3 separate regions of the Homo sapiens genome follow, and all the other regions are linked to region 2. The links come from fine-mapping of genetic effects on gene expression. A gene starts in region 2. Each other region holds a variant in brackets. All regions are shown on one strand. Distances are from middle to middle. Region 1 overlaps ENSA (endosulfine alpha). Region 2 holds the start of C1orf54 (chromosome 1 open reading frame 54). Region 3 overlaps RPRD2 (regulation of nuclear pre-mRNA domain containing 2).

Evidence for each region. PIP is the estimated chance that this variant, and not a neighbour inherited with it, causes the effect.
Region 1: its variant is fine-mapped to the expression of C1orf54 in prefrontal cortex (ROSMAP, PIP 0.95).
Region 3: its variant is fine-mapped to the expression of C1orf54 in whole blood (INTERVAL, PIP above 0.99).

Annotation. Positions count from the first base shown.
Region 1 is chr1:150,612,567-150,623,514 of GRCh38, reverse strand. ENSA (endosulfine alpha) reads left to right here. Exons shown (of 4, transcript NM_004436.4): 4 at 656-1,390. The coding sequence ends at 671. Among named protein-coding and RNA genes, the nearest start is that of ENSA, 12 kb to the left of the region's middle. RefSeq lists a silencer at 568-862. The variant C/G (reference allele first, on the strand shown) is at 4,568.
Region 2 is chr1:150,268,136-150,277,758 of GRCh38, reverse strand. It overlaps C1orf54 (chromosome 1 open reading frame 54), which reads right to left and starts at 4,969. Exons shown (of 6, transcript NM_024579.4): 1 at 4,896-4,969; 2 at 3,589-3,672; 3 at 1,960-2,018; 4 at 1,127-1,237. The coding sequence starts at 4,941. APH1A (aph-1A gamma-secretase subunit) reads left to right here and starts at 8,743. Exons shown (of 7, transcript NM_001077628.3): 1 at 8,743-9,061. The coding sequence starts at 8,949. LOC124904414 reads left to right here. Exons shown (of 2, transcript XM_047438213.1): 2 at 8,430-8,703. The coding sequence ends at 8,703. RefSeq lists enhancers at 8,291-8,340, 8,401-8,450, 8,032-8,643 and a silencer at 8,504-8,961.
Region 3 is chr1:150,388,021-150,398,968 of GRCh38, reverse strand. All of the region lies in intron 1 of RPRD2 (regulation of nuclear pre-mRNA domain containing 2), which reads right to left. Among named protein-coding and RNA genes, the nearest start is that of RPRD2, 29 kb to the right of the region's middle. The variant G/TG (reference allele first, on the strand shown) is at 5,515.

The DNA.
Region 1 (10,948 bases), 350 kb before region 2:
TGAGTCTGATTTTTAGGAAGGAATAGGAGGAGCAGGGAAATCAGAAAAACTGTTGGTCTCACTCTGTCTCTCTACCTGGTCATCTTCAAGGCTAAGAAAACAAACAAGCTACATTCTGTATTTGCCAGTTTCCACAGCATGAAGTACATAGCTTCCTTAGCAAGGAGTGGTCATTCCAAAATCCAAATGCAAATTGCTTTGATTAAACCTAGATTATTAAATCCATTCAGAACAGCATGTGTGTGGTCTGGTTCTGGCCTCCACACAGTCACCACCTCATCTCTGTGCTACCTCAGTCTTTGCAAGTAGCTGTGGCCATGCCTCTGAAACAGCCTGCTCTGAGCCAGGCAGCTTACCCACCTGGAAACCTCCAGTTATTTTGATCTTATCTAAAGAATTATTTTTCTATGTTTGTTATCCATGGATATCCCAGAAAGGCAGATAACGTTGTTTCGTGGATAGGAAAAGACTGAAATTCTATTTTTTGATTTTTTTTGCAACTCCCTTATGGATAGGATTGAGACATGCCAGGTAGCCTAATGGTTGTTAAATGTGGAGGAATCATGGGGTAGAGACTGGGTTGGAGTTCAGGGTTTTTTTCCCCTATTACTTGACAGTGTTGTTTTTTTTTTTTTTCTTCTGTGTTCGTCCGCAGTGGCCAAGTTGAATGATGCTGCCCGGGGCTCTGCCAGATCCTGAGACGCTTCCCCTCCCTGCCCCACCCGGGTCCTGTGCTGGCTCCTGCCCCTTCCTGCTTTTGCAGCCAGGGGTCAGGAGGTGGCTCGGGTGTGGGCTGGAGAGGCAGAAGCCCTTTCCTGTTGGTGTCCCAGCACATGGAGCCCCTTGGGCTGAGCACCAAGACCTTGAACCTTTTTTGTTTTACCTTTTTTCCAAATAACAGTTGGGAGAAATATCAATGAAATTCTGGGGGTGGGGGTGGGGTTGAAAGGGTGGGGTGGGAGATATGGAGGAGTATGAATTAGGGCTTGGAGTTGGTAAAAACATTCCTGACTATCCTTCTTAACCACGTGGCTGATGTGGGGTAGGTATGAGGGGAAGGAAGTGGAGTAGCCTAATGAAAAGGGGTTCTAGTTGAGCTCTGTAGATAAATGCCTTGTTTCAGTGTGGTTGGAGACCTGGTGTCAGATAAAAGAAACTCCATCCGCACAGACAGATGCAAACAGCTCCTCTAGTTCTGCAGAGCTAGTTGAGAACTCAACATTAATCATTTTAAAAAGTACTGTCCTTGAAATAGATTTGCTGTGGGAAGAAGGGCAGTGAGTGTGGGAGAAAGGAGCCGTGAGCGTGGGGAACCCCACAGAGCCCAAAGGACTTTTTCAGTATTCGAAATAAACAAAACAAAAACCCATGAAAAAACCCAACCCAGAAATATTCTGAAGCAGTTGGTGTGTTTTATTGGGGTTTGGGAGGGGGAAGAAAACAATACTGAAGACATTGTTAATGTGAGATGCGGCTGAGTTCCCCAATACCATCACTTAGGAAAGGGAGCAGGAATGTTGGCATAAACCTTGCCCATCCCTTTGTTTCTGTAACCAATGTAGAAGGTGCATCAACCTCAGTTTGTGGCTCACAAAATGAGGCATTTAAGATATTTGATCTAAATGGTTTCTTGACACCTAAGCCTAGTCCAGGTTTAGCAGAAAAGGAGGCCCAGTCTCCTTTTCCCTCTGTCTTCCATTCCTTTTCAAGTTCCCATGTTTGTGAGGGAGAAATGTGACAAACCAAAAGAAATATATTATTTCTTTGTAATAAGCCAAAAGAAACTCAAGTCTTTCTGCTGGTGGCCAGCAGGAGGCAGAGTGATTTCTTTCCTCATGATGTGCCAATCTGCATTGCTGGAAACCTGCTACTGAAAGAAGTTAAAAGCTGCCTGTGAATGTAACGTACAAAAGAAAGGTTACCAAAGGAGAAAAAACTCCAGCGGGTGTACGGTGGCTCACGCCTATAATTCCAGCACTTTGGGAGGCCAAGGTGGGTGGATCACTTGAGGTCAGGAGTTTGAGACCAGCCTAGCCAACATGGTGAAACCCCATCTCTACTAAAAATACAAAAATTAGCCGGGCGTGGCGGCACATGCCTATAATCCCACTTACTTGGGAGGCTGAGGTAGGAGAATCGCTTGAACCCAGGAGGCAGAGTTTGCAGTGAGCCGAGATTGTGCCATTGCACTCCAGCCTGGGCGACAGAGCGAGACTCCATCTAAAAAAAATAAATGAATAAAATAAAACAAGTACAAATTTAAACTAGAGACACAAGTTAATGGTGTTTATTGTGGTGGGGTTAGTGAGCCATCCCATGATTTCCTCCTGAGTATGTTATCCCTGGTTTGTGTTTGCCAGCTGGGGAATGAGGTGAGGTCTATGAGGCTGAATGTGGGATCATTCAATTTCTTTCTTTCTTTCTTTTTTTTTTTTTTTTTAGAGGCAGGATCTTGCTCAGTCACCCAGAATGGAGTGCAGGGTGCAAACACTCACTGTAGCCTCAACCTCCTGGGCTCAAGTAATCTTCCCATCTCAGCCTCCCAAGTAGCTGGGACTACAAGCACACACCACCACACCTGGCTAATTATTTTTTGTAGAGATGAGGATTCACCATGTTGTCCAGGTGAGTCTCAGAACACAGGCTTAAGCACTCTTCCCATCTCAGCCTCCCAAAGTGCTGGGATTACAGGCATAAGCCACTGCGCCTGGCTGAGAATATATTTTCATCCTTTCTTTTGTAGAGAGGATCTCGTTTTGTTGTGTAGGCTGCTCCTGAACTCCTGGCCTCAAGCAGTCTTTCCACCTCAGCCTCCCAAAGTGCAGGGATTACAGGTGTGAACCACTACACCCAGCAGTTAGTGCAATTTCATTTTAATACAAGTGAGGAAATTAAGGTATAGAGATAAGTTACTTGTAAAGTAGAAAAGCTAGTTAGCTGAAGAGCTTGAGTTAGTATCTTAGGCTTTTATATTATTTCTTCCCACTATTCCTGGCTTCCCTGGTCCTCAATTTTAATTTGTGGCCTTAAGAAGCCTGGGGTGCCAAAAATGTTTGGGGCTATCTGTATTTCATGTTACTCCTTAGCCTTTTTTTTTTCCTTTTAGTTCTTCACCACTGCACACTTGGCAGGATGTATCCCATTTTAAAACTTGACAGTCCATCTCCTTCACTCCCATACTGTAGGGCTAGGCAAGCAAAGCAAACTGATTCTGCAATGCTTCTAATAGTTATTCCTGCTCATTATTTTAGCTAGATGTATTCTAAAGTCTTTATCCCAAAGAGTTGAATCAAAGGTTCTTCCACTCCTCCAACCTGATTGTGCTGACAAGCCACTAAGCTGAGCCATCTAATATACAGGGTGGCAGGGATGAAGTCACCGTTACTGTCCAACAGCTTTTATTTTAAGCTGGTGTGGGCTGGGCATATCAAAGACAGGCAAAGAAAAATAACTTGGAGAGTTGCCATTGAGGATATATCCACAGTGAGCCAACAGCACCCACACAAGCAGCCCTCGTCTGTATAATGCCCTCTACTGGGTCTTGAGGGAGATTAAAAAGAAAGATCTCTTCCATCCTGGGGAACCTGAGATATGACAGCAGCACACAAATACAGGCAGATTTATAGTTCTAAGCAGAGTTCCAGTAGCTAAGCTAAGGGAAGGAGAGTCAGGAGATAAGCTGTTAGCTGAATTTTATTAAAGACAGATGACTTCACTAGTAAAGATAAAGTGGGACCTCCCGTGGTTGGGCTGCAATATTTTAAGTCCCAAGTGACTGCTGAATACTCGCTTTGCAGTTGGAAAAATAAGCTGTTTTTGGCCAGATAAACAGTGTAAGAGGTCATCTCTGCTCTAGAGGAACATGTAACCTAATTGAGACACTTCTACATATAATGCAAGATAGCATATGGTTAGTCAAGTAGTAGAATTCTGAGAAGAGAAAATCTGACTGGACTCATTAGGTAAACATAAGTGGTGGAAATGGACATTTAACTGGGCCTTGAAAGGTGGGTAGTATTTAAACAGTGCAGTTACTTAATAAGTGTCCACAATATGCCTGGCATTGTGCTAAAATACAAGGTAAATTGTATGTGGCTGCCTCTTTCAAGGAGATTACATTGTAGTGGTGACCTACACATGAAGAAATCATATTACAGTGTTAAACTTACAGCAGTGGTGGTCTAGCTATACAGAGGAATAGGGACAAGTAATTAATTAATAATAGTTGCTTTTTTTTTTTTTTTTTTCTGAGACAGAGTCTCACTTCGTCACTGGAGTGTAGTGGTGTGATCTTGGCTCACTGGAACCTCCACCTCTGGGTTCAAGTGATTCTGCCTCACCCTACGGAGTAGCTGGGATTACAGGCATGTGCCACCATGCCCTGCTAATTTTTGTATTTTTGGTAGAGATGGTGTATCACCATGTTGGCCAGGCCAGTCTTGAACTCCTCACCTCAAGTGATCCACCCACCTCAGCCTCCCAAAGTGCTGGGATTGCAGGCTTGAGCCACTGCTCCTGGCCTGTTGGTTTTTTTTTCTTTTTAAGACAGAGTCTCACTCTTGTCGCC[C/G]AGGCTGGAGTGCAGTAGTGAGATCTCAACTCACTGCAACCTCTGCCTCCTGGGTTCAAGCTATTCTCCTGCCTCAGCCACCTGAGTAGCTGGGATTACAGGTGACTGCCACCACACCTGGCTAATTTTTGTACTTTTAGTAGAGACGGGGTTTCGCCATGTTGCCCTGGCTGGTCTTGAACTCCTGACCTCAGGTGATCCACCTGCCTCAGCCTCCCAAAGTGCTAGGATTACAGATGTGAGCCACCGCGCCTGGCTGTGGTTTTTTGTTTTTGTTTTTTGTTTTGTTTTGTTTTGTTTTTGAGGCAAGGTCTTGCTCTGTTGCCCAAGCTGGAGTGCAGTGGTGTGATCTCAGCTCACTGCAACCTCCACCTTTTGTGTTCAAGCGATTCTCGTGCCTCAGCCTACCAAGTAGCTGGGACTATAGCCATGCACCACCATGCCCGGCTAATTTTTGTATTTTTAGTAGAGACGGGGTTTTGCCATGTTGGCCAGGCTGGTCTTGAACTCCTGACCTCGAGTGATCCACCCGCCTCAACCTCCCAAAGTGCTGGGATTACAGGCATGAGCCACCGCACCTGGCCTTTTTTTTTTTTTTTTTTTTTTTTGATACAGGGTCTCTGTCCCCCAGGCTGGAATGCTGGAATGCAGTGGTGTAATCATGGCTCACTACAGTCTCAGCTCCTCACTACGAGGTCAGGAGATTGAGACCATCCTGGCTAACACGGTGAAACCCCGTCTCTACTAAAGATACAAAAAATTAGCCGGGCGTGGTTGCAGGCGCCTGTAGTCCCAGCTACTCGGGAGGCTGAGGCAGGAGAATGGCCTGAACCCAGGAGGCGAAGCTTGCAATGAGCTGAGATCGCGCCACTGCACTCCAGCCTGGGCGACAGCGAGACTCCGTCTCAAAAAAAAAAAAAAAAAAGTTCGAGACCAGCCTGGCCAACATGGTGAAACCCCCGTCTCTACTAAAAATACAAAAATTAGCCAGGCCTGGTGGCGGGTACCTGTAATCCCAGATACTCCGCAAGCTAAGGCAGGAGAATCGCTTGAACCCAGGAGGCGGAGGTTTCAGTGAGCCGAGATCAAGCTACAGCACTTTAGCCTGGGCAATAAGAGTGAAACTTCATCTTGAAAAAAATAAAATTTTAAAATCCTGATTTTTTTTTATAACTCTGAACAAGTTTCTTTAACTCTCTGCCTCAATTTACTTACTTGCATAATAGTAACGACATGGTACCTACCATGAGGGTGGTTGTGATGATTAAGCAAGATAAGGCTTGTAAAGGCCTTACTTCAGGGACTACAAAAGTGCGTAAAACATGGTTCCAGCTGGGCGTGATGGCTCGCGTCTGTAATCTCAGCACTTTGGGAGGCCAAGGCGGGCGGATGGCCTGATGTCAGGAGTTTGAGACCAGCCTGACCAATGTGGTGAAACCCTGTCTGTACTAAAAATACAAAATTAGCCAGATGTGGTGGTGTATGCCTGCAATTCCAGCTACTTGGGAGGCTGAGGCACGAGAATTGCTTGAACCCGGGAGGCGGAGGTTGCAGTGAGCCGAGATTGCGTCACTGTACTCCAGCCTGGGCAACAAGAGCAAAACTCTGTCTCCAAAAAAAAAATAAAACATGGTTCCTGCCCTCAAGGAGTTTACAGTATACAGAGGGATATAATAAAAACAGACAGATAAGGAATTAGAAGGGATTGGTGCTAAGACAGGGACAAACACAAAATGCTCTAGAAGCACAGAATAGGGGAACCTACCCAATTTGAGGAGGTGGAGGAAGGACAGGAAAATCCTGTCACAGAAAATAGCTTCTAAGCTGAGATCTGATGAAGTAGAAGAATTTATTCAGGTAAAGGGGTTAGATCGGGAAAGGGGTCTTCTGGGTAGAAAGAACTATGTAAAGTGATTCAGAGTTATTACATTCTGCAAACTGGGAATAATTCACAGTAACTGTAGTAAGCATCCAAGGGGCAAGGCCAAGCTGGGTGTAGTGGCAGGTGCCTGTAATCCCAGTTACTCAAGAGGCTGAGACAGGAGAATCCTTGAATCCGGGAGGCGGAGGTTGCAGTGGGCCGAGTTAGCACCATTGCACTCCAGCCTGGGCGACAGAGTGAGACTCCGTCTCAAAAAATAATAAATGAAGTAACAATGGTGAAGTTTGAAGTAACTCAGGTGAAGTAACACCTAAGTGGAAATTCCATACTCCACTCAGTAAACCATTATCATGGGCTAGTTGAATTGTAAGACACTTTATTATGTTGCTACAATATTTCAGGTGAGAGATGATTAGGAACCAAGGAAGGTAATGACAATGGGTATAAAGAAGAGTAGACAGGGCTGGGCATGGTGGCTCACGCCTGTAATCCCAGCACTTTGGGAGACCGAGATGGGGGGGATCACCTGAGGTTGGGAATTCAAGACCAGCCTGGCCAACATGGTGAAACCCCATCTCTACCAAAAATAGTAAAAATTAACCGGGCGTGGTGGCGGGTGCCTGTAATCCCAGCTACTCAGGAGGCTGAGACAGGAGAATCACTTAACCCAGGAGGTGGAGGTTGCAGTGAGCCAAGATCGCACCATTGCACTCCAGCCTGGGCGACAAGAGCAAGACTCCATCTCAAGAAAAAACTCAAACACCAAATACAAAAGAAAAAGGACTGGAGTATCCATTTGATTTGGCAGTTAGTAACCTTTTTGAGACCAATTTCAGTGGATTTGTAGAGGTGAAATCTGGCTTATAGAACTAAGTAATATGGAGAGGTTTTGTGGTTGTTTTAGGATGGGAATAATTCAGGCATATTTATTGAAAGAGTGAAAGGAATAAGTAAAAGCTGGAGCTCAGTAGAGAATGATAATAACCAAAAAGCAGGGTTCTGAAGAGAAAGGAGGTGAAATGAGCACAGGTGGATGTGGTTTAGTTACATGGTCTACTTCTGCAGACGTTTGCTGAGCACTTACCGTGTGCCAGCCACTCTACTAGGTGGTGGGGTTAGTCTACTTGGGAAGCCAACTGAGTGAGAAAGTGGTCTCAAGTAGGACTATATATGCCTCATCCTGCTGGAGACTCAAGGCGAAAATATAACAGTAAACTCCCAGCTGATTGTTTTTGACTGGGGCTAAGTAATTTATAGGAGTCGTTGTCTGACAGCTTTAGTCAGACTTGTAAAGTAGGATGTTAGAGAGGTGGGAGTGTAAAAAGTATAGCCATAAAAGGACATAGAAGAGAGGAGGGGCGGAGCCCAATGACTCAGGCGCCTATAATCCCGACAGTTTGGGAGGCTGAGGCAGGAGGATTGCTTGAGTCCAGGAGTTCCAGACCAGCCTGGACAACATGGTAAGAACTCATCTGTACAAAAAATAAAAGCCAGGCATGGTGGCACACGCCTATAGTCCCAGCTACTTGGGACGGTGAGGTAGGAAGATCTCGAGCCCAGGACGAGACTGCAGTGCACAATTATCGTGCTTGTGACTAGCCACTGCACTCCAGCCTGGGCAACATAACCAAACCCCATCTCTTAAAAAAGGTGGGGAGGGGTGGTTAGGAAGCAAGCAATGTTGAGGTTCTAACAGATTGGTACCATGAACATGTAATGGTACCAATCCATATCTTTGTGCTATTTTCTCTAGAAGCACCTAGCTCCCTGGGTACAAGAGCAGGGACGACATTATTGTTTAGATCCTGAGTCAGGATTTGTAGACAGATAAAGTATACTAAGAAGGAAGCAAGGGGATGAAAGTGCTGGTGAAAGATTAAAGAATCTCTCTGATTATAGCTAGATAAGAAAATAGGCTAAGGAAGTTGTGATAAACTGGTCAAGCCAGGCGCGGTGGCCCACACCTGTAATCCTAGCACTTTGGGAGGCTGGGGTGGGTGGATCATGAGGTCAGGTCAGGAGTTTGAGACCAGCCTGGCCAACATAGTGAAACTCCGTCTCTACTAAAAATACAAAAAATTAGCTGGGTGTGGTGGCGTGCGCCTGTAATCCCAGCTACCAGGGAGGCTGAGGCAGGAGAATCTCTTGAACCCGGGAGGCAGAGGTTGCAGTGAGGCAAGATTGCGCCATTGCACTCCAGCCTGGGCAACGAGCAAAACCCTGTCTCAAAAAAAAAAAAAAAAAAAAAAAAAAAAAAAAAAACCTCTGGTCAAGAGAATTCTTTGTTTCTTTCTCTATTATTTATTTATTTTTAAGAGAACTCTTTATAAGGTCAAAGAGCAGATGATTTAGAAGCAGAAATGATTAACCTGGAAGTTCAAAACATTGTAGCAAGAATATAAAATTTTAGATTGGAGCCAGGTGGTGGCTCATGCCTGTAATCCCAGCACTTTGGGAGGGGAAGATGGCTTGTGCCCAGGAGTTCGAGACCACCCTGGGCAACAAAATGAGACCCCCATCTCTACAAAAAAATTAAAAAATTAGCCATGCATGATGGCATGCACCTGTGGCCCCAGCTACGTGGGAGGCTGAGGCTGGAGGATAGCCTGAGTCCAGAAGGTGAAGGCTGCAGTGAGCTGTGTTTGCACCACTGCACTCCAGCCTGGGCAACAGAATGAGACTCTGTGTATAAATAAATAAAACTAAGAGAGTTCTCACATCGAGCTGTGAAGGTAGTTTGCTAATTTATCTGGGGTTTTGCTGTTATCTTTTGTTAAAAATCAACTTGCTGGGGTGAGGTGGCTCACATCTGTAATGCCATCACTTTGGGAGGCTGAAGGGGGAGGATCACTTGAGTACAGGAGTTTGAGACCAGCCTGGGCAATGTAAGGAGACCCTGTCTGAAAAATTAAAAAAAAATAGCCAGGCGTGTTGTCATGTGCCTGTAGTTCCAGCAATGGCAGGCTGAGGTGGGAGCATCGATTGGGCACAGGAGGTTGAGGCTGCAGTGAGCTGTGATTGCACTGCTGCACTCCAGCCTGGGCAACAGAGCAAGACCCTGTCTCAATAAATAAAATAAAGTAGCATCAAATTGATACATATCCTAGAGTAGTTATCTTTTTTTCCTCTGAGCTCCAACAAGAAACAACAGTATTTACATTTTTAACTGGAGACAAAACTCTGCATAGGAGAAATTCAAACATCAGCAGACATATGAGGGCGTTTTTTGGCAGAGGCAACTTACTGTCAATAAAGTCTCACCCCTGGTGAACGCCACCTGCTCACACGTACAAAAGGAAAGTCATTTAGTGATCATGAATCCTGGTTTGACGTTAAGGTCCATGTCTGAAGTGTCGTTTATGATTAGGGAAGTCTGAGTCATCCTTAGGCTTCCTCTATTGCATTTGAGTCATTTCCTTTTTTACAGACCCAAACTGTACAGCCCAGGATATTTCTTAAATGTCCAAAAGTACAGAGTTTTGGAACTAAAGGGACATTCGAGATCATTGAGTTCAGTGTACTCGTTTTACAAATGGTGAAACTAAGGCCAAGAGGAGCATGCCTTTGCCTGATTGCACAGCCTCTGTGGGGCAGTTTTGCCTATACCAAGAAGGGTATAGGAAAATACCCTATTCTCTAGAACCAGCTGATTTCACAGCAAATTTGGATTCTGGCTTGAATTTATTTTTGTCAGAAGTAAACTAAAAATACTTGGTCTGAAAGTCTGAGAGGGACTCAGGGCCCAGGGGAACAAGCAGGCATCTCTGGTATATCCCCCTCAAATAGTTTTTTGTTTGTTTGTTTTAGACAGAGTGTTGCTCTTGTTTCCCAGGCTGGAGAGCAATGGCGCAATCTCGGCTCACTGCAACCTCCACCTCCTAGATTCAAGCGATTCTCCTGCCGCAGCCTCCCAGGTAGCCATCACACCCAGCTAATTTTTTGTATTTTTAGTAGAGATGGGGTTTCATCATGTTGGCCAGGCTGGTCTCGAACTCCTGATCTCAGGTGATCCACCCACCTTGGCCTCCCAAAGTGTTGGGATTACAGGCGTGAGCCACCATGCCCGGCCCCCCTCAAATGGTTTTATCTGTCACACTGGTGCTCCTGCAATGGACAAAGGAGACGTTTCCTGTAGGACCAGCATCTCTTTACTCAGGTTTTTCAATCTTGGAACTGCTGACATTTTGGGCCAAGTAATTCTTTGTTGCAGGGACTGTCCTGTGCATTTCAGGATGTTTAACAGCATCTTTGTCCTCTACCCATTAGTTGCTTAGTCAGAATAATCAGAAAAGTCCCCAGACATTGCCAAATGCCCCCTGGAGTTGCCTGGTTGCCTGGTTGAGAATCACTATGCTTAAGAAAGGGGCTCTTGTTGTAATCCCAGCACTTTGGGAGGCCGAGGCGGGAGGATCACGAGGTCAGGAGATCGAGACCATCCTGGTTAACACAGTGAAACCCCATCTCTACTAAAAATACAAAAATTAGCTGGGCATGGTGGC
Region 2 (9,623 bases):
GCTCCTTGTTGATTATGAGTCCAGACTTCAGCCTGACACCTGAGACTCTCTGAAATTTGCCCCTATGTTGCCACATGTGAAATTACTAAGCAAGTATTAGGAGCCTTGTAAATTTTATATTTTTCTTAATTCCCACTGTTCCCTTCCATATACCCTCTCCTTCAATCATACCCTATTTGCTAAACATATTATGCTTGTTCTATTCCCCCCTCCTGTGCAGCTCTTTCACTCTTTTTTTTTTTTTTTTTTTTTTTTTAGTATAGAGTCTCACTCTGTCGCCCAGGCTGGAGTAGAGTGGCGTGATCTCGGCTCACTGCAACCTCTGCCTCCCGGGTTCAAGTGATTCTCATGCCTCAGCTTCCCAAGTAGCTGGGATTACAGGCACGCACCACCACGCCTGGCTAACTTTTGTATTTTTAGTAGAGATGGGGTTTCCACCATGTTGGCCATTGAACTAGCCTTGAACTGCTGACCTCAAGTGATCCGACCACCTTGGCCTCCCCAAAGTGCTGGGATTACAGGCATAAGCCGCCATACCTGGCCTCTTTCACTCTTGGAATAACTATTCTTCCTCCTAATTGCTTCTGTCCTTCCATAACTACCCACCAATCAAAAGCTCATCTATTCTTCAGGGTGTATCTCAAGCACAAATGCCTCTTGAAAGCTTTTCAGACAACTCTAGCCTGTACTAATCTCTCTTCTTACATTGGCTAAAGCACTGCCAGTATCTTCTGCTTTCAAATTTATATATAATTTAACATCATAACATACCTTTTCATTTTGTTCTAAGTGTTTCGTAAACTTGAATTTTATAAATCCTTGAGGACAGTAACATAGATTTCTTTTTTATCAGCATCAGTTACCTTAGCAGCCTTAGGCATAGATTACATACCTATTGAATACTACTGAACTGAAATTTAACTGTACCATATCTTCCCAGTGTTCTGTAAACAGGGTTAGTATTAAATCTTAGTGAAACATGGCCAAGTTGAGATGAATACCTGCAATGAAGTACTAATTATTTGGTTCTCCCATCCACCAAAGCCTGGTATTCCAGCCCTCTATGTATTCCACGTCACTAGGGATGTCCTGTCTCCCCCCAGCCCCCAATCCCCAATCAACTCACAGGTTCCGTTGTTACTGGTTTCACAGTTACAGGCTTCGGATGGTCTGCACGTGCTGTTTCAAGACTAATGGTAGTCTCTATTGCTTCTGTTATGTCCTTATCCAACCTGTTCTACCCTCAGTAGGATTTGGGAAACACAGAGTTATCAGTTTTTCCATCCAACATCTTCATAGATTCTCTACTTAAAGTTCTCCCCTTCACCACCTCCACCCAGCCCAAAGACTTAAGCTCAGGGATTCCCCCCTACCCTATGCTTGCATAGATTTGTACCCATCTCATTCAAAAGTCCCTTGATGCCCCTCCTCAGTGTCTTAGCAAACTTACTGAGGACAATTTATAAAGTTCTGGCTTTTTTCTCCTCCCCAGATAGGTTAACAAATCTGTTTTGGGCCTACTACTTAGTTTCTCCTCATCAAACTCATTTTTATTCTTGTTAATCAGATACATTTCAACATTGCCCAGTTTCTTTTCTTTTCTTTTTTCTTTTTTTTTTGTAGATGAAGTCTGGATCTGTCACCCAGGCTGGAGTGCAGTGGAACGATCTTGGCTCACTGCGTCCTCCATCTCCCGGATTCAAGTGATTCTCCTACCTCAGCCTTCTGAGTAGCTGGGATTATAGGCATATGCTACCATGTCCAACTAATGTTTTTGTATTTTTAGTAGAGACGGGGTTTCACCATTTTGGCCAGGCTGGTCTCAAACTCTTGACCTCAAATGATCCACTCGCCTTGGCCTCCCAAAGTGCTGGGATTATAGGCATGAGCCACTGCGCCCGGCCAGTTTCTTTTTAATTGTTACTTATCCTAACCCTTTTAGATGTAGAGTTCACTCACCAGCCTGTCCTCTGACTCAAATATGGAGTAATCAATGGTGAAATCTGCACTAAAGTCATCTGCAGAGGAGAAAGAAAATCAGTAATAATTAAAGAAAAATGTAACTCTAGATCTGGAAATGAAAAGGGAAGAAATTACTCAGAATAGTTTAACTTAAGTTGTAACATTTATTGGTATAATCCAATTTTATTTAACTAATGTTAAAAATGACTGTGAATGTGTATGCATTTATATTTTCAATGTAGGTATCTAAAATAATTTACAAATTTGAAAAATTTTCAAGTTCTTCTTTTTTTAGAGTCAGGGTCTCACTGTGTTAACAGGCTGGAGTACAGTTGGTTCAATCATAGCTCACTGCCACCTCCAGCTCCTGAGCTCAAGTGATCCTCCTGCCTCAGCCTCCTGAGTAGCTGGGACTACAGCCATGTGCCACCATGCCCAGCTAATTAAAAAAAAAAAAATTTGGCCGGGCACGATGGCTCAAGCCTGTAATCCCAGCACTTTGGGAGGCTGAGGTGGGCAGATCACGAGATCAGGAGTTCAAGACCAGCGTGGCCAACATGGTGACACCTTGTCTCTACTAAAGATACAAAATTAGCCGGGCATGGTAGCACACGCCTGTAGTCCCAGCTACCTAGGAGGCTGAGGCAAGAGAATAGCTGGAAGCCGAGAGGCAGAGGTTGCAGTGAGCTGAGATTGTGCCACTGCACTCTAGCCTGGGTGACAGCATGAGATTTGGTCTCAAAAAAAAAAAATTTTTTTTTCTATAGAGACAAGGTCTTGCTATGATGTCCAGGGTGGTCTTGAACTCCTGGGCTCAAGCAATCCTCCCATCTAAAAATCACTATCTGGAAAAATAACATCATCATGAGTCTTTTTTTTTTTTTGTGACGTAGTCTCATTCTGTCGCCCAGGCTGGAGTGCAGTGGTGTGATCTCAGTTCACCACAACCTCTGCCTCCCAGGTTCAAGCGATTCTCCTGCCTCAGCCTCCTGAATAACTGGGACTACAGGCAGGTGCCACCATGCCCAGCTAATTTTTGTATTTTTAGTAGAGACAGGGTTTCACCATGTTGGCCAGGCTGGTCTCAAACTCCTGACCGCAGGTGATCCACCCACCTCAGCCTCCCAAAGTGCTGGGATTACAGGCATGAGTCACTGCGCCCAGCCCATCATAAATCTTTTTTCATTTTTTTTTTTTGAGATGGAGTCTTGCTCTGTCACCCAGGCTGGAGTGCAGTGGCACGATCTCAGCTCACTGCAACCTCTGCCTCCCGGGTTCATGCCATTCTCCTGCCTCAGCCTCCCAAGTAGCTGGGACTGCAGGCACCCGCCACCACACCCGGCTAATTTTTTGTATTTTTAGTAGAGACAGGGTTTCACTGTGTTAGCCAGGATGGTCTCGATCTCCTGACCTCGTGATCCGCCCGCCTCAGCCTCCCAAAGTGCTGGGATTACAGGTGTGAGCCACCACGCCCGGCCCCATCATGAGTCTTGATAGGTTTTGTTCATAGCCAGATTTTTCTCTGACCCCATTGCTCTGCTTCAAAGTGAAGAGCAAAGTCTCAGAACTAAATATCCTGAAGCCTCTCTCCAGTTGGCTAAGGGCAAGAGCCTTTCATGTACTCACCATAACTGGGGGTGACTGTATAATAATAGACCACCTGATAATATTCATCCTCTCCCAGTCTTTCTTCATCCTCATATTCTTGTCCTATGGGGACAAGGACTAGAGGTCAAGGGACATCTGGAACACCTTACTAACAAAAGGACACCTGGAGATGACCTCAGCGCTCCCAGCTTTCTTGCTCTTTCTTTCTTTTCTCTCTCTCTCTCTCTCCTCCAATAGTCATACTCCTTTCTTGCCTGTGCACCTCTACACCCCTCTCAGTCTTCTGGGATCCATATCTGTAATGAGGCCTGTTACTCCGTGCCCTTTCAATCCAGGAACTCCTAAAACAGAAAACAGTCCCCTTCACATACTATAAACCCAAAGGGAGAACCAGACCTAAAAAAGGTAGGAAAAGTAGAGACCAGGAATTAAAAACGCCAAGTCTTCTATTTAGTATGCTCCAGATCTTACTGTATTTGTGAGACATCTTTTCTTATCAGTATCTCTTACAAATAACTAACATACACCCTTAGGCTTTGGATTTGAGCTTTAGTTCCACCTTCACTGCTAACAGAATAACCCTGAACAATCCACTTAACATCCGCTTTCTTAAAATGAGTCAGCTGGACTAAAATGACCCATCTCTGTTAGTTTTTCTTCCCTTTCAGAACTAAAAATATGTGGCTTTGATATGACTGGATCAAGAACTCCAGGCCTCCTGCTAAACACTTCCCTGAGCTCCTTGAATGCTTTCCCTTCAACTCCAAGCTAATGACACAAGAATCTAGAGGAAAAGGAAACAATGAGACACACCTGGTAGACTGGGGAACAAAGGAGGGAAGGAGCCAAGCTACTCTTGGGACCCTGTCCCTGAAGACAGCCAGTTTTCCACTACCCTAAAGGTCACCCCACTTCTGTGTCTTTACTAATAGCAGGTTTTTTTCTCCAATTCTCTGGGAAAGGAGATACCCTAACTACTAGTTTCAGACTGTGACACCTTCCAATAATCCCTCCTTCACCCTTACTTTAGCCCCTGTCATCTTGTTCAACTTCCGTGGTGATGGAGAACTGAGCTCAGTGTTGCTAGGGCCTCCTTGTGTCTGGAGCTCCATCCTCCTTGTTTGACAGGACTCTGCTTTTTTCCCCCTTTCCTGGCTCTGCCTTCCAGATCTCCATTCTGCCCTCAACACCGGACCCCAGCACGATGAGAAAACTCTATCGCTCCCCACTGAAATGTACCTCTCACCCACTCCTCATTTTTTTTCTCCCACCCCATTTATGGTAGAAGACCTGGCACAAAAGCTCAGAGAGAGGAGTGGACTTACCCAGGATAAGTGGCACAGCAAAGATGGCTACAAAGAGGACATCCATTCTGGATTCTGCACTATTGCTGTGAAAGTAAAAAAGGAAATTACAGAGTTTCCCACCAAACTTACCCCGCCTCCCCTCCTCCTCCAAAGCAGGGAAGGAGCTGCAGCAACTCTTCTCCTCCCAGGGGGCAGAACTCCCCGCCTACTGGCTGACTGACTAGATCTCCGGTTACTGCCGGTCCCCAGCCAGAGCTGCCCAGATTGAGAGGCAAAAGGGGGTTTTGATGCAAACATGTTTCTTAAGCTCCCCCTGCCCTAGATTAGATCCATTCAAGACTCCCACTGTCACTACCAAAATAAAAATAAAAAATAAGCCTACCAAGAAGTTTCCCCTCTCCCGGCTTTCCTTCCTTCCTCCAAGGCCTCATAAAAAGTTCACCCTCCCTCTCACTGTCTCTGACTTACCATCACCACCCAGAGTTGCCTTTCTCTCTGAGGCTTCATCAGTCTCTTTTCGTCACAGTGGAAATGTTCTGAGGAAGGGGTGAGCATTTTTCTAGACTGAAAAGAATCCCTTTCTTCTGTCTGTCTGGAGCTATAGAGAATAGGAACAATATTTACCCATCATTGTCTGACTTAAAGCACCTGCTGCATGGCTTCAGCTAAAAGTCTCTCAGCCATGGTCAGTTATTTCCTTTCTGGTAACACTGACCTCACCTCACCTCTTTGTTTTTTTTTTGAGACAGAATCTTGCTTTGTCACCCAGGTTGGAGTGCAGTGGCGCGATCTCGGCTCACTGCAACCTCTGCCTCCCGGGTTCCAGTGATTCTCCTGCCTCAGCCTCCCTGGTAGCTGGGACTACAGGCGCGTGCCACCATGCCCAGCTAAGTTTTGTATTTTTAGTAGAGACGGGGTTTCACCATGTTGGCCCAGGCTGGTCTCGAACTCCTGACCTCAGATGATCCACCTGTCTTGGCCTCCCAAAGTACTGGGATTACAGGCATGAGCCACCGTGCCCGGCCTCACCTCATCTCTTTCTCAACTTCCAGGATGCAGGTTGGAAGAAGGGAGAAAGCAGATAGTCTCTTTCCCTGCTACAGGTGCCACACCTTCCCTCCCACATTCAGTCACTTGGTATGTTCCCTTCATTCCGTCCTACAGGTGTAGAGTTTTTATCCTTTCCTCTGCTTTTATGTTTCCCATGTTCATTCAATTCAGAAACCCTTAGCAACATACGTGCTAGGCACAGTGTGCTAGGCCTAGTGTGATAGGCAATTGAGAGCTTATAGGCAAGGGAATAAGAAAAGACAGTTTTGCTTTGTTCTTAAGGGAAGTTAATAAGTATCTGCTCAACATCTACTATGAGTCAGGCACTATGCAAGTGTCTGTGGAAACACCCATGAACAAGATAGGTTTACAGCCTCCTGTCAATGGTCAGAAGATGCTGTGGTAACAGCTCAATGGAGAGATGAAGCTGGCCACAGTGGCTCACGCCTGTAATCCCAGTACTTTGGGAGGCTTAGGCGGACAGATCACCTGAGGTCAGGAGATCAGCCTGGCCAACATGGTGAAACCTTGTCTCTACTAAAAATACAAAAATTAGCTGGGCTTGGTGGCAGGCGCCAGTAATCCCAGCTACTAGGGAGGCTGAAGCAGGAGAATCACTTGAACCTGGGAGGCAGAGGTTGCAGTGAGCCGAGATAGCACCACTGTACTCCAGTCTAGGCAACAGAGTGAGACTCCATCTCAAAAAAAAAAGACATGAGAATTGTCTCATTCCTATCCACCTTACTCTGCCTGCTGGGCTCAGAAGCAGGACATACTGGAGTCTTGAACACAGGTCATGATAACGCTACCCTCTTAATTTTTTTTTTTTTTTTTTTGAGACGGAGTCTCACTCTGTTGCCCAGGCTGGAGTGCAGTGGCACGATCTCGGCTCACTGCAAGCTCCGCCTCCTGGGTTCACGCCATTCTCCTGCCTCAGCCTCCTGAGTAGCTGGGACTACAGGCGCCCGCCACCACGCCTGGCTAATTTTTTGTATTTTTAGTAGAAACGGGGTTTCATCGTGTTAGCCAGGATGGTCTCGATCTCCTGACCTCGTGATCTGCCTGCCTCGACCTCCCAAAGTGCTGGGATTACAGGCGTGAGCCACTGCGCCCAGCTACCCTCTTAGTCTCATTAGGGAATAATTTGCCTGGTGACTTTCCATGTAAATATTTTCTTTCTTTTTTTTCAGAGACAGAGTCTTGCTCTGTCGCCCAGGTTGGAGTGCAGTGGTGGGATCTCAGCTCACTGTAACCTCCACCTCTCAGATTCAAGCTATTCTCGTGGCTCAGCCTCCTGAGTAGCTGGGACTACAGGTGCGCACCACCATGCCTGGCTAATTTTTTGTATTTTTAGTAGAGATGGGGTTTTACCACACTGGCCAGGCTAGTCTCAAACTCCTGACCTCAAGTGATCCAGCCGCCTTGGCCTCCGAAAGTGCTGGGATTACAGGCATGAGCCACTGTGACCAGCCTCCGTGTAAATCTATACAATCTATTCCTCAGCTCCTTTCCAGAATATCCTGGAAGACATGTAAAACATGTATGTGAGTGTGCACATATGGATTAAATAATAAATCACTTCCAGGAAGGAAAGGAAGTTTGGTTATCTTTAAACAATTTCTGTGGGGTTTTTTTTGGTACTTTGATTATGCTTTCAAAAACAATATTCCAGATTTCTTTCCTCTTTTCCATCCTCAGATTCCTTTGCCTAACATCTTCCCTAAGGACTAACCTCTCCCCATCCAAATGAGATTACAATACCCTCCTCTCCTACTTAACTTTCTTTTTCTTTTTTGAGACAGAACCTCACTCCGTTGCCCAGGCTGTAGTGCAGTAGCGCAATCTCAGCTCACTGCCACCTCTGCCTCTTGGGTTCAAGCTATATTTGCCCCTCAGCCTCCCAGGTAGCTGGGATTACAGGCGTGCGCCACCACATCTGGCTAATTTTTGTATTTTTAGTAGAGATGGGGTTTCGCCATGTTGGCCAGGCTGGTCTCAAACTCCTGGCCTCCCAAAGTGCTGGGATTACAGGGGTGAGCCACCGCGCTCAGCCTACTTTAACTTTCATTCACTCTAATATACAACCCCTCTCAGCCTCAGGAAAACGCACCACTGAGGTTCATTTTTCAGAAAATAAATAGAGGAAGTATGACATAAAAGGAATTTATGGCGGGGGTGGGGTGGGGGTGTCGTTTTCCTTCAACCCCATCGCTCTAATTGCTTTTAAACTCCCGGACTCTTTCAAAATGCCTTCCTAACATTTCTCTCCAGGCTCCTTTTGCTTCTCTCCGATTCTCTTGTCATTACAGATGAAGGCTTCATTAGCGATATACTGTATTCCATGTTTATTATACTAGTCTGTCCGAAGAGCTCCTACTTTTTAATGTAATCTTCATCTCTTAGGCAGCAGCTCTAGCCCATTTCCTCTCATTCAAGTAAGAACAATACCCGTCCCTATCTCCCTGCGCCCCATCCTGTGCTCTCTTTGTATTTGTCCCTTAGATTCAAACAGGATCTACCCCCTCTGCAGCCCTTCAAGAAGAGGTATGATTGCTACCACTTTTCCCCACAAAGTGACGAAAGGAAACAGCGACGGAAGCGCAACCGAACCCTGGAATTGGTGTCTCGACTGGTCCATTCCCGGCCCACCCCCATTAACCGGCTCGAGCCACTCCCAGGACGAAGTCAAGGCCTCGGAAGGCGACTACAACTCCCAGCAGGTCGAGCAGCTCCGCCCGCGCTGATTCTCCATTGGCCTTCCGGGGGTGGGGATTAGATGGGAGGTGGCCGTGGGGCTGCGGCCGGGATTTGTCCCCTCTTCGGCTTCCGTAGAGGAAGTGGCGCGGACCTTCATTTGGGGTTTCGGTTCCCCCCCTTCCCCTTCCCCGGGGTCTGGGGGTGACATTGCACCGCGCCCCTCGTGGGGTCGCGTTGCCACCCCACGCGGACTCCCCAGCTGGCGCGCCCCTCCCATTTGCCTGTCCTGGTCAGGCCCCCACCCCCCTTCCCACCTGACCAGCCATGGGGGCTGCGGTGTTTTTCGGCTGCACTTTCGTCGCGTTCGGCCCGGCCTTCGCGCTTTTCTTGATCACTGTGGCTGGGGACCCGCTTCGCGTTATCATCCTGGTCGCAGGGTGAGTAGAGGGCCCGGGAGACGCGGGAGAGCGTCGAAGAGAGAGGTGCGGAAGGGGCTGGAGGAACTGGGGCAAGCCTGGGAGCCTGAATTGGGGACGATAAGTCGGAGGTGAAGTTTGGGCGGAGGTGAGGGGTTGGGTCTGGGAGATTTGTCCTTTCCCGCAGTTGGTTTCCACCTTCCAAGGATCTCACAGATTCCTCCTATATTCCTCCCAGCGACGTCAGAGAAGGCCCAAGGCCGAGACTCGTGAGGGGGCTGTGCTGACCTAGGCAGGCCGAGTCAGGTGCCTTAGGGGAGGATCCAGGAACGGATACCTCGCCCTTCCGTGCTCGCACACTCTGGCTGTCATCGCTCTGAAGACTCTTTAATTAGATTTCTCCCCTTTCCAGTGCGTTCACTTTTCTACAGATGAGTCTCTTGGTGGAGACAGTTACCCTACCTGGTCCATGTCTCCCTAACCATCCGGAAGGCTAACTTCCACTTTTCAAGCAGCTTTGGCTGGTTTCCCTCCTTGATTTCTCTGGCTCCCACTACTATTGCTTGTCTCACTGCCCCTGTCT
Region 3 (10,948 bases), 120 kb before region 2:
AATTCTTTATGACTTTGAATTAAAGGATTTCTTATATGTAACGAAAATATCATCTGTTAACATTTTTAAAATAAACTGGACTTCATCAAAATTAAGAAATTATTGCTTTTTTAAAAATGCTGTTAAGGCCGGGTGTGGTGTCTCATGCCTGTAACCACAGCACTTTGGGAGGCTGAGGAGGGTGGATCACTTGAGGTCAGGAGTTCGAGACCAGCCTGGCCGACATGGTGAAACCCGGTTGCTACAAAAATACAAAAATTAGCTAGGCATGGTGGTGCGCACCTGTAATCCCAGCTACTCCGGAGGCTGAAGGAGGAGAATGGCTTAAACCCAGGAGGCGGAGATTGTAGTGAGCCGAGTTCACACCACTGCACTGCAGTCTGGGTGACAGAGTGAGACTCTGTCAGAAAAAAGGGAAAGGGAAAGGGAAAGGAAGGAAGGAAAGAAGGAAGGAAATAAAATAAAATAAAATAGGCCAGGCACGGTGGCTCACGCCTGTAATCCCAGCACTTTGGGAGGCCAAGGTGGGCAGATCACGAGGTCAGGAGATCGAGACCATCCTGGCTAACACAGTGAAACCCCGTCTCTACTAAAAATACAAAAAATTAGCCAGGCGTGGTGGCAGGCACCTGTAGTCCCAGCTACTTGGGAGGCTGAGGCAGGAGAATGGCGTGAACCTGGGAGGCAGAGCTTGCAGTGAGCCGAGATCGCGCCACTGCACTCCAGCCTGGGCAATAGAGCGAGACTCCGTCTCAAAAAAAATAAAATAAAATAAAATAAATATAAAAACACAAAAATTAGCCAGGCATAGTGGCAGGTGCCTGTAATTCCAGCTACTGCGGGGTGGGGGTGGGGTGGGGTGCTGAGGCAGGAGAATGGCTTGAACCTGGGAGACAGAGGTTGCTGTGAGACAAGATCATGCCACTGCACTCCAGCCTGGGCAACACAGTGAGACCCTGCCTCAAAATAAATAAATAAATACAATTAAAGATGCTGTTAAGAAATGTTTGTGTGTTGCTCAAGGCCCATCTCTACTAAAAACAGAAACAAATTAGCTGGGCATGGTGGTGGATGCCTGTAATTCCAGCTACTCCGGAGGCTGACTGAGGCAGGAGAATCGCTTGAATCCGGGAAGCAGAAGCTGCAGTGAGCGGAGATGGCGCCACTACACTCCAGCCTGGGCAACAGAGCAAGACTCTGTCTCAATAAATAAATAAATAAGAAATGTTTATGGTGGCTTTATTCATAATTACCAAGAACAAAACAACCCAAATGTCCTTCAACAACTGTGAAACATCCTTAAAATGGAATACTATTTAACAACAAAAAGAAACAAAATTTTGCTATGTATGTTTTACTACAATTGCATCATGCTAAATGAAAGAAGTCAGACTCAAAAGGTTACATCACTCCATTTACATGACATTCTGGAAGAGTCAAAACTATAAGGTCAAATAGTGGGTCACAGACGAAAGGGGTTCAATAAAAATGGGGAAGAATTTGGGGAGTAACAGAACTTATATAAGTTCTATATGTTAATTGTGGTGGCTACACAATTATAAATTCATCAAAATTTATAGAACTGTACATTTAAAGGGTAAACTTTGGTGTATGTAAATCATAACACAATAAACCTGACTCCCCACCACCCAAAAAAAGCAAAACACCAACAGAATCAATAAGACTTGCTGTTGTGGCCGGGTGCAGTGGCTGACGCCTGTAATCCCAGCACTTCCAGAGGCCGAGGCAGGTGGATCATGTGAGGTCAGGAGTTTGAGATCAGCCTAACCAACATGGTGAAACCCCCTCTCTACTATAAATACAAAAATTAACTGAAGGTGGTGGCAGGTGCCTGTGATCCCAGCTACTCAGGAGACTGAGGTAGGAGAATTGCTTGAATCTGGGAGGCAGAGGCTGCAGTGAACTGAGATCATGCCACTGCACTCCAGCCTGGGCGACAGAGCAAGACTCTGTCTCAAAAATAAAAATAAAGAAAGAAAATTTTAATTTTAATAATGCTGAATTTATATATTTATTATGGTAATCATTATTTTTATTATGGCTAGCATAGTGTGTCTCGTTTGAGAATTCTTTCCCTACATTATTCCGTTCCATTGGTCTATGTGCCTATTTTTATGCCAGTACCATGCTGTTTTGGTGACTATGACCTTAGAGTATAGTTTGAAATCAGGTAATGTGATGCCTCCAGATTTGTTTTGCTTAGTGTTGCATTGGCTATGTGGGGTCTTTTTTGGTTCCATATGAATTTTAGGGTTGTCTTTTCTAATTCTGTAAAGGATGATGGTGGTACCAACTGATCTTTGACAAAGCAAACAAGATAAAGTGGGGAAAGGACACCCTATTCAACAAATGATGCTGGGATAATTGGCAAGCCACATGTAGAAGAATGAAACTGGATCCTCATCTCTTACCTTAAACAAAATAAATTAACTCAACATGGATCAAGGACATAAATCTAGAACCTCAAACTATAAAATTCTAGAAGATAACAATGGAAAAACCCTTCTAGACATTGGCTTAGGCAACTATTTCATGACCAAGAACCCAAAGGCAAATGTAATAAAAACAAAGATATAAAGCTGAAACTTAATTAAACTAAAGAGCTTTTGAAGAGCAAAAGGAACAGTCAGCAAGAGTAAACAGACAATCCACAGAGTGGGAGAAAATCTTCACAATCTATACGTCTAACAAATGATTAATTTCCAGAATCTATAATAAACTCAAACAAATTACCAAAAAAAAAAAAAAACACACAGACGATCCCATCAAAAAGTGAGTTAAGGACATGAATACACGATTTTCAAAAGAAGGCATACAAATGTCAAACAAACATATGAAAAAATGCTCACCATCCCTAATGATCAGGGAAATGCAAATCAAAACCACAATGTGATACCACCTGACTCCTCCAAGAGTGGCCATGATCAAAAAATCAAAAATTAATAGAAGTTGGCATGGATGCAGTGAAAAGGGAACACTTCTACACTGCTGGTGGGAATGTAAACTAGTACAACCACTATGGAAAACAGTGTGGAGATTCCTTAAGGAACTAAAAGTAGAACTACCATGTGATCCAGCAATCCCAATACTGAGTATCTACCCAGAGGAAAAGAAGTCATTATATGAAAAAGATACTTGCGGCCGGACGCGGTGGCTCACGCCTGTAATCCCAGCACTTTGGGAGGCGGAGGCAGGCAGATCACGAGGTCAGGAGTTCGAGACCAGCCTGGCCAACATGGTGAAACCCCGTCTCTACTAAAAATACAAAAACTAGCCAGGCGTGGTGGCATGTGCCTGTAATCCCAGCTACTTGGGAGGCTGAGCAGCAGAACTGCTTGAACACGGAGGCAGTGGTTGCAATGAGCCAAGATGGTGCCACTGCACTCCAGCTTAGGTGACAGAGCAAGACTCCATCTCAAAAAAAAAAAAAAAAAGATATTTGCATACACATGTCTGTAGCAGCACAATTTGCAATTGCAAAAACGTGAAATCAACCCAAATGCCCATCAGTCAATGGGTAAAGAAACTGTGGTGCTGTGATGTGTATACACACACACACACACACACACACACACACACACAATGGAATACTACTCAGCCATGAAAAGGAATGAATTAATTGCATTAGCAGCGACCTGGATGAGATTGGAGGCTACTATTCTAAGTGAAGTAATTCAGGAATGGAAAACCAAACATCATATGTTCTCACTCATATGTGGGAGCTAAGCTATGAGGATGCAAAGGCATAAGGAAGACACAGTGGACTTTGGGGACTCAGGAGGAAAGAGTGGGAAGGGGGTGAGGGATAAAAGACCACAAATTGGGTTCAGTGTATACTGCTCAGGGGATGAGTGCACCAAAATCTCACAAATCACCATTAAAGAACTTACTCATATAACCAAATACCACCTGTTTCCCAATAACCTATGGAAATAAAAAAATTTAATTTAAAAAAAAGAATTATTTCCCTATACTATGGTCATAAAGATGTTCTTTATTTTCTGATAAAACCTTTGTTTTGTTAGCCTTTTGTATTTGCCTTTATCCTATGCAGAAGCAATTTTTGTGGCCAGGCGCTGTGGCTCACGCCTGTAATCCCAACACTTTGGGAGGCCGAGGAAACAGATTGCTTGAGCTCTGGAGTTTGAGACCAGCCTGGGCAACATGGTGATACCTGGTCTCTACAAAAAATACAAAAATTAGCCAGGCATGGTGGTGTGCACCACCTACTCTGGAGGCTGAGGTGGAGAATTGCTTGAACCCGGGAGGCTGAGGTTGCAGTGAGCCGAGATCATGCCACTGCACTCCAGCCTGGGCGACAGAGCAAGACTTCGTCTCAAAACAAAAACAAAACAAAAAAAAACTCCACAAAAAGGTTGAAAGTTCAGTAAACATTCCTATATTTTACCTACATTTAGCAATCGTTAATATCTTGCCGCATCAGCTCTATCTCTCTATATATACAACATTTAGTTCTCTTTTGCCAAACCATCTTAAAGTAGATTGTAGAGAGCAATATAATTTATCCCTAAATATTTCAGAAGGAACATTCTCTCATACAATCATAGCAGCATTATATCTTAAAAAAACTTAATTCAGGCCTGGTGCAGTGGTTCACGCCTGTAAACCCAGCACTTTGGGAGGCTGAGGCGGGCGGATCACCCGAGGTAGGGAGTTCAAGAACAGCCTGACTAACATGAAGAAACCCTGTCTCTACCAAAAATACAAAATTAGCCAGGCGTGGTGGTGCATGCCTGTAATGCCAGCTACTAAGGAGGCTGAGTCAGGAGAATCGCTTGAACCCAGGAGGCGGAGGTTGCAGTGAGCCGAGATCGCGCCATTGCACTCCAGCCTGGGCAACTTTTAAGAGTGAAATTCCGTCTCAAAAGAAAAGAGAAGAAAACAACAACAACAACAAAAAACATTAATTCAGCAACACCAGCCGATATAAAGCGCATCATCAAATTTTCCCAACAATCACCAGACTGTTTATAGTTGGGGTTTTTTTTTATATACTGTTATTTTTACCTTTGTTTTTTTCACTCCAAGAACCAAAGTTCTTATGTTTGATTTTCATTATCTCTCAATGTAGGAGAGTCCCTTTACCTCTCCCTATTCTTCATGACTTTGATGATCCAAGCCAGATGTCCTGCAGAACATCCCACATTTCAGGATTCATTCATTTTCTCAAGAGTAGGTTCAGGTTAAACATTTTTGGCAAGAATACAACTTTGTTGGCATTGTATACCACCCACTACCTTCCGTAAGAGACATATAATTTTCATGCCATCCCACTACTATTGATGCCAAATTCTCTCTGCATTATAAATGCATGTTTTTCCCTCTACAATAAAGTAATAATCTATAATTATCAATTTGTAACTCATAATCTATGGGGTGATACATTCACACTGTAGGAATACTATATACTGCTCCTCAACAGTCTTTCACCCAATGTTTTTTTTATTGGTTTTTTTTTTTTTTTTTTTTTTT[G/TG]AGACAGGGTCTCTCTGTTGCCCAGGCTAGAGTGCAGTGGCAGATCACACTTCACTGCAGCCTCAACCTCCTGGACTCAATCGATCCATCCACCTCAGCCTCCTAAATAGCTGGGACTGTAGGCATGTACCATGCCCAGCTAATGTTTCTGTAGATGCGATTTTGCCATGTTGCCCAGGCTGGTCTTGAACTTCTGGGCTCAAGCGATCTGCCTGCCTTACCCTCCTGAAATGCTGTGATTTACATGTGTGAGCCACCGCACCCAGCCCTCTTTAATAATGTTTTGGTTTGGGTCTTAACGTCTTTATTCATGCAGCTACTATAGCGGTATGTTTTTTATTGTTTTTGGTTAGTAACTGCCTTTTAACTTTTCTATTTTAGATATGTCTCTCTATATAGCCACATTTTTAAAAAAAATCTGAACTGATCATCCCTATCTTTTAACTGCTAAAATTATTCTTTTATGTTTAACTGTGATTGATATATTTGAATTTGTTTCTATCATTTTATGTTGTGCTTTTATTTGCCCTGCCTTTTTCTATGCTTCATACTTCTTTATTCCCTTCATACCTCTGTACCTTTTGGGGAAGTTTTCTTTTCTTTGTTTTTTTTCTAGACAGGGTCTTGCTCTACTGCCCAGGCTGGAGTGCATGGCGAAATCATAGCTCACAGAAATCTGCAACTCCTGGGATCAAGCAATCCTCCCTCCTCAGCCTTTCCAGTAACTGGGACTACGGGTACTTGTTACCAGGCCCAGCTATTTTTTATTTAGTAGAGACGAAGTCTTGCTATGTATGTTGCCCAGGCTAGTCTTGAACTCCTGGCTTCACGCGATAGTCCTGCCAAAGCGCTGAGACTACAGGGATGAGCCATGGCCAAGAAATTTATTTTTTAAATTGTTCTCCCCCTTCTAGTGGCTGAAAGTTATACATTCTATTTTTACCCAATTTTTTTTGGAGTCTCACTGTGTCACCTAGGCTGTAGTGCAGTGGCGCGATCTCAGCTCACTGCAGCCTTCGCCTCCTGGGTTCCAGCAATTCTTCTGCCTCAGCCTACCCGATAACTGGGATTACAGGCATGTGCCACCACGCCCAGCTAATTTTTGTATTTTTCGTAGAGATGGGGTTTCACCATGTTGGCCAGACTGGCTGGAACTCCTGACCTCAGGTGATCCACCCATCTTGGCCTCCCAAGTGCTAGGATTACAGGCGTGAGCCACTGCACCCACCCCTAAATCACTCTATTCTTCTCTCTTTTCTTTTTTTTTTTGAGATGGAATCTTGCTCTGTCGCCCAGGCTGGAGTGTAGTGGTGCGATCCTGGCTCACTGCAACCTCCGCCTCCCGGTTCAAGCGATTCTCCCGAGTAGCTGGGACTACAGGTGCCTGCCACCATGCCTGGCTAATTTTTTTCAATTTTTAGTAGAGATGGGCCTTGAGCAACACACAAACATTTCTTAACAGCACACCACCATGCCCAGTCCACTCTCTTCTTGAACTACAATACCGAACAGAGATAGTTTTGTCCTTTTTTTTATTTTTATTTTTTGAGATGGAGTCTCATTCTGTTGCCCAGGCTGGAGTGCAGTGGTGCGATCTCGGCTCACTGCAACCTCTGCCTCCCAGGTTCAAGTGATTCTCCTGCCTCGGCCTCCCAAGTAGCTGGGATTACAGGTGCCCACCACCAGGCCCGGCTAATTTTTGTACTTTTAGTAAAGACAGTGTTTCGCCATGTTGGCCAGGCTGGTCTCAAACTCCTGACCTTAGGTGATCCGCCCGCCTCAGCCTCCCAGAGTGTTGGGATTACAGGCGTCAGCCACTGATCCCGGCCTGTCCTGGCTTTTTAAACTATACTAATTAAATATCTCATACAGGAAATGTTCATTCAGATTTACTCTTATGGTTACCAATTTACTTGCTTAGCACTGCATTTTATCTCTTAGATTTTTTTCTGGGATTATTTTCCTTTCCCTGAAGTATATGTCCTTTTAAAGGTCATTAATGGGCCAGTGTGGTGGCTCACACCTATAATCCCAGCACTTTGTGAGGCCAAAGCAGGAGGATCACTTGAGCCCAGGAGTTTGAGATAAGCCTGGGCAACACATGAGACCCTTATCTCTACAAAAATAAATAAATGAATTAAATAAAATAAAGGTCATTAGGTGAAGATCTGTTGGTTTCTAGCTTTTGTCTTTATGGAAATGTCTTTATTTTGCCCTTGTTCTTAAAACTTAGTTTTGCTAGGTAGACAATTCTAATTTGATGGCTGTTTTCTCTCTGCACTTTGAATATTTTATTCCAATGTCCTCTTGCTTCCATAGTTATCAATCTGTCATTCCTTTGTAAGTAATTAATAATCTATAATTATCAATTTGCATTTCATGATCTGTGCAGTGATAGTTTCATACTGTAAGAATACTGTATACTGAGGATAGAATACCCATCCTCTCCTACTGTTTTTAAGAGCTTCTCTTTGACTTTGATATTCTTCAGTTATCTATAAAGTATGTACAAGTAGATTTCTTTTTATTTAACCCCCTTCCTTCATATGCATATGGTCCCTATATATATTCACATATTTCATCAATTATTCCATTTTCTCCATTATTCCTTTAAAATATTGCCTGTTCTTAATTCTCTCCTTATAAGACTTCAATCACACATGTTAGACTCATTATGCTCTTCCTTTTAACTTATTTCTTAACATTACATTCTGGGAAATTACTTCAGATCTTTCAGTTCATGAATTCTCCCTTTGCCAATGGTCTTATCTGTTGTTCAAATCATCCACTAAGTTTTCAATTTCAACAGTTATACTTTTATTTCTAACATTTCTCTTTGGTTCTTTTTCAAATTTGCATAACTGTCTAAGAGTTGTTCCTTGATATATTTTAGATTCCTTTATTAATTTAAATATTTTATACATGGTTCTTTTTATTTATTTATTTATTTATTTTTTGAGACGGAGTCTCACTTGTCGCCCAGGCTGGAGTGTAACGGCGTGATCTCGGCTCACTGCAACTTCTGCCTCCCAGATTCAAGCGATTCTCCTGCCTCTGCCTCCCGAGCAGCAGGGAGACTACAGGCATGTGCCACCACGCCTGGCTAATTTTTTAATATTTTTAGTAGAGATGGAGTTTCACCATGTTGGCCAGGCTGGTCTTGGAACTCCTGACCTCAGGTGATCTGCCTGCCTCGGCCTCCCAAAGTGCTGGGATTACAGGCGTGAGCCACTGTGCCTGGTCAGTTGTTTTATATTTCATATCTTATTATTTCAATAGTTTAAGTCTTTGGGGTTTGTTTCTATTAAATCTCACCCACAGTTGTTTATTTCTTTGTGTTTGGCAATTCTTTTATTGTAAGCTTATATTTTGTTGAATTTTATCTATGGGAATTCTGAAAGCCTAATCAGAGAAAGCTTTTTCTAAAAATGTATTTGCATTTACTCTGGCAGAGAGTCAAGGGCAGTAGTGACCCAGGTTCAATTCAGCATCTTTCTCAAGGGGCTTTTCAACGTTTCTGGGGGCCCAAGGCTTAGTCTCCCATTAGTGCTGATGTGAGCGTTTGCCTTCAGGAAAACGTTGCCAGTCTTGTTTGCTCACAAGCTTACTCACTGCTCCTGTTTCAGCTGACTCTTTACTTCTGTGAATGAACAGACCCTTGGAAACCTCCCTTACTTTTTTAGTACACCCAGTAATGCATTAAAATGTGTGCTTGTTAATGTCTACACAGAATTCTGAAAAATTTACATAGATGCTGCCTCCTCAAGGAGGTAGACGGCATAACTCCCCTAAATTGTGGGCTGTGCAGTGACTTCTTCCCAAAGAGTACAATGTGTAAGAGGCTTCAAAAAAGAAGAAATCTGAAAAAAACTATCTCAGCCAGGTGATCAAGGTTAGTATCATTAGCGGTAAAACATGTTGATAGGATGGACACTCTTGATATCATGTGATGAAAATGGAACTTTACCTCTGTGGTCTTCCTCCAAAGAAACAATAACCCCAGCTAATCATTAAAACAAAAAACAACCACAAAAAAACAGACAAACCCACATTGAGGGACATTCTACAAAATATCTGACCAAATCTAGGGAAGCTTAAAAGAAAACTGTGGACACAGTGGCTCACACCTGTAATCCCAGCACTTTGCGAGGCCGAGGCAGGCAGATCGCTTGAGCTCAGGAGTTTGAGACAAGCCTGGGCAACATGGTGAAACCCTGTTGCTACAGAAATTACAAAAATTAGCCAGGTGTAGTGGTGCATACCTGTGGTGCACACCTATAGCCCCAGCTACTCGGGAGTCTGAGGTGGGAGGATTGCTTAGACCCGAGAGGTCGAGGCTGCAGTGAGCTGTGATTGTACCACTGCACACCAGCCTGGGCAACAGAGCAAGACTCTGTCTGCAGGGAAAAACAAAACAAAACAAAACAAAACTGTCAAAATCTAGAGGAGCCTAAAGAGATATAATAATTAAATGTGGAGTTATGGAGAAAACAACAGTAGGTAAAAACTAAGGCAATTCATAAAATATGGACTCTTAATAATTACATATTAGGCCAAGTGCAGTGGCTCACGCCTGTATCCTAGCACTTTGAGGGGCTGAGGCAGGCAGATCACGAGGTCAGGGGTTCAAGACCAGCCTGGCCAATATGGTGAAACCCCGCCTCTACTAAAAATACAAAAATTAGCTGGGTGTGGTGGTGTGTGCCTGTAGTCCCAGCTACTCAGGAGGCTGAGGCACAAGAATCGCTTGAACCCAGGAGGCGGAGGTTGCAAGATCGCGCCACTGCACTCCAGCCTGGGCGACAGAGTGAGACTCCATCTCAAAAAAAAAAAAAAAATTACATATCAATATTGATTCATTGGTTTTAATAAACGTAACATACTAATGTAAGATGTTAACAACAAGGGCAACAGGATGCAGGGTGTATATATGTGTGTGTGTGTGTGTGTGTGTGTGCGCGGGTATATATATATAGTGTATGTGTATATATGCATATACATATATATGTGTGTATACATGTATATATGTATATATATACATGTGTATATACACGTATATACATGTGTATACGTGTATATGTGTATACATGTATATATGTATATGTGTGTGTATATACACATGTATATACACATACATATATACACACACATACAAGCACTCTCTGTACTATCTTCACAACTTTTCTATAAATCCAAAACTACTGCAAAGCTAAAATTTTATTTAAAAATTATGTCTGGGCCAGGTGCAGTGGCTCATGCCTATAATCCCAGCACTATATGAGGCCAAGGTGGGTGGTTTGCTTGAGCTCAGGAGTTTAAGACCAGCCTAGGCAACATAGTGAGACCCCGTCTCTACAAAAAAATACAAAAATTAGCTGGGCGTGCTAGTGCACCCCTGTAGTCCCAGCTACTTAGGAGGCTGAGGTGGTAGGAT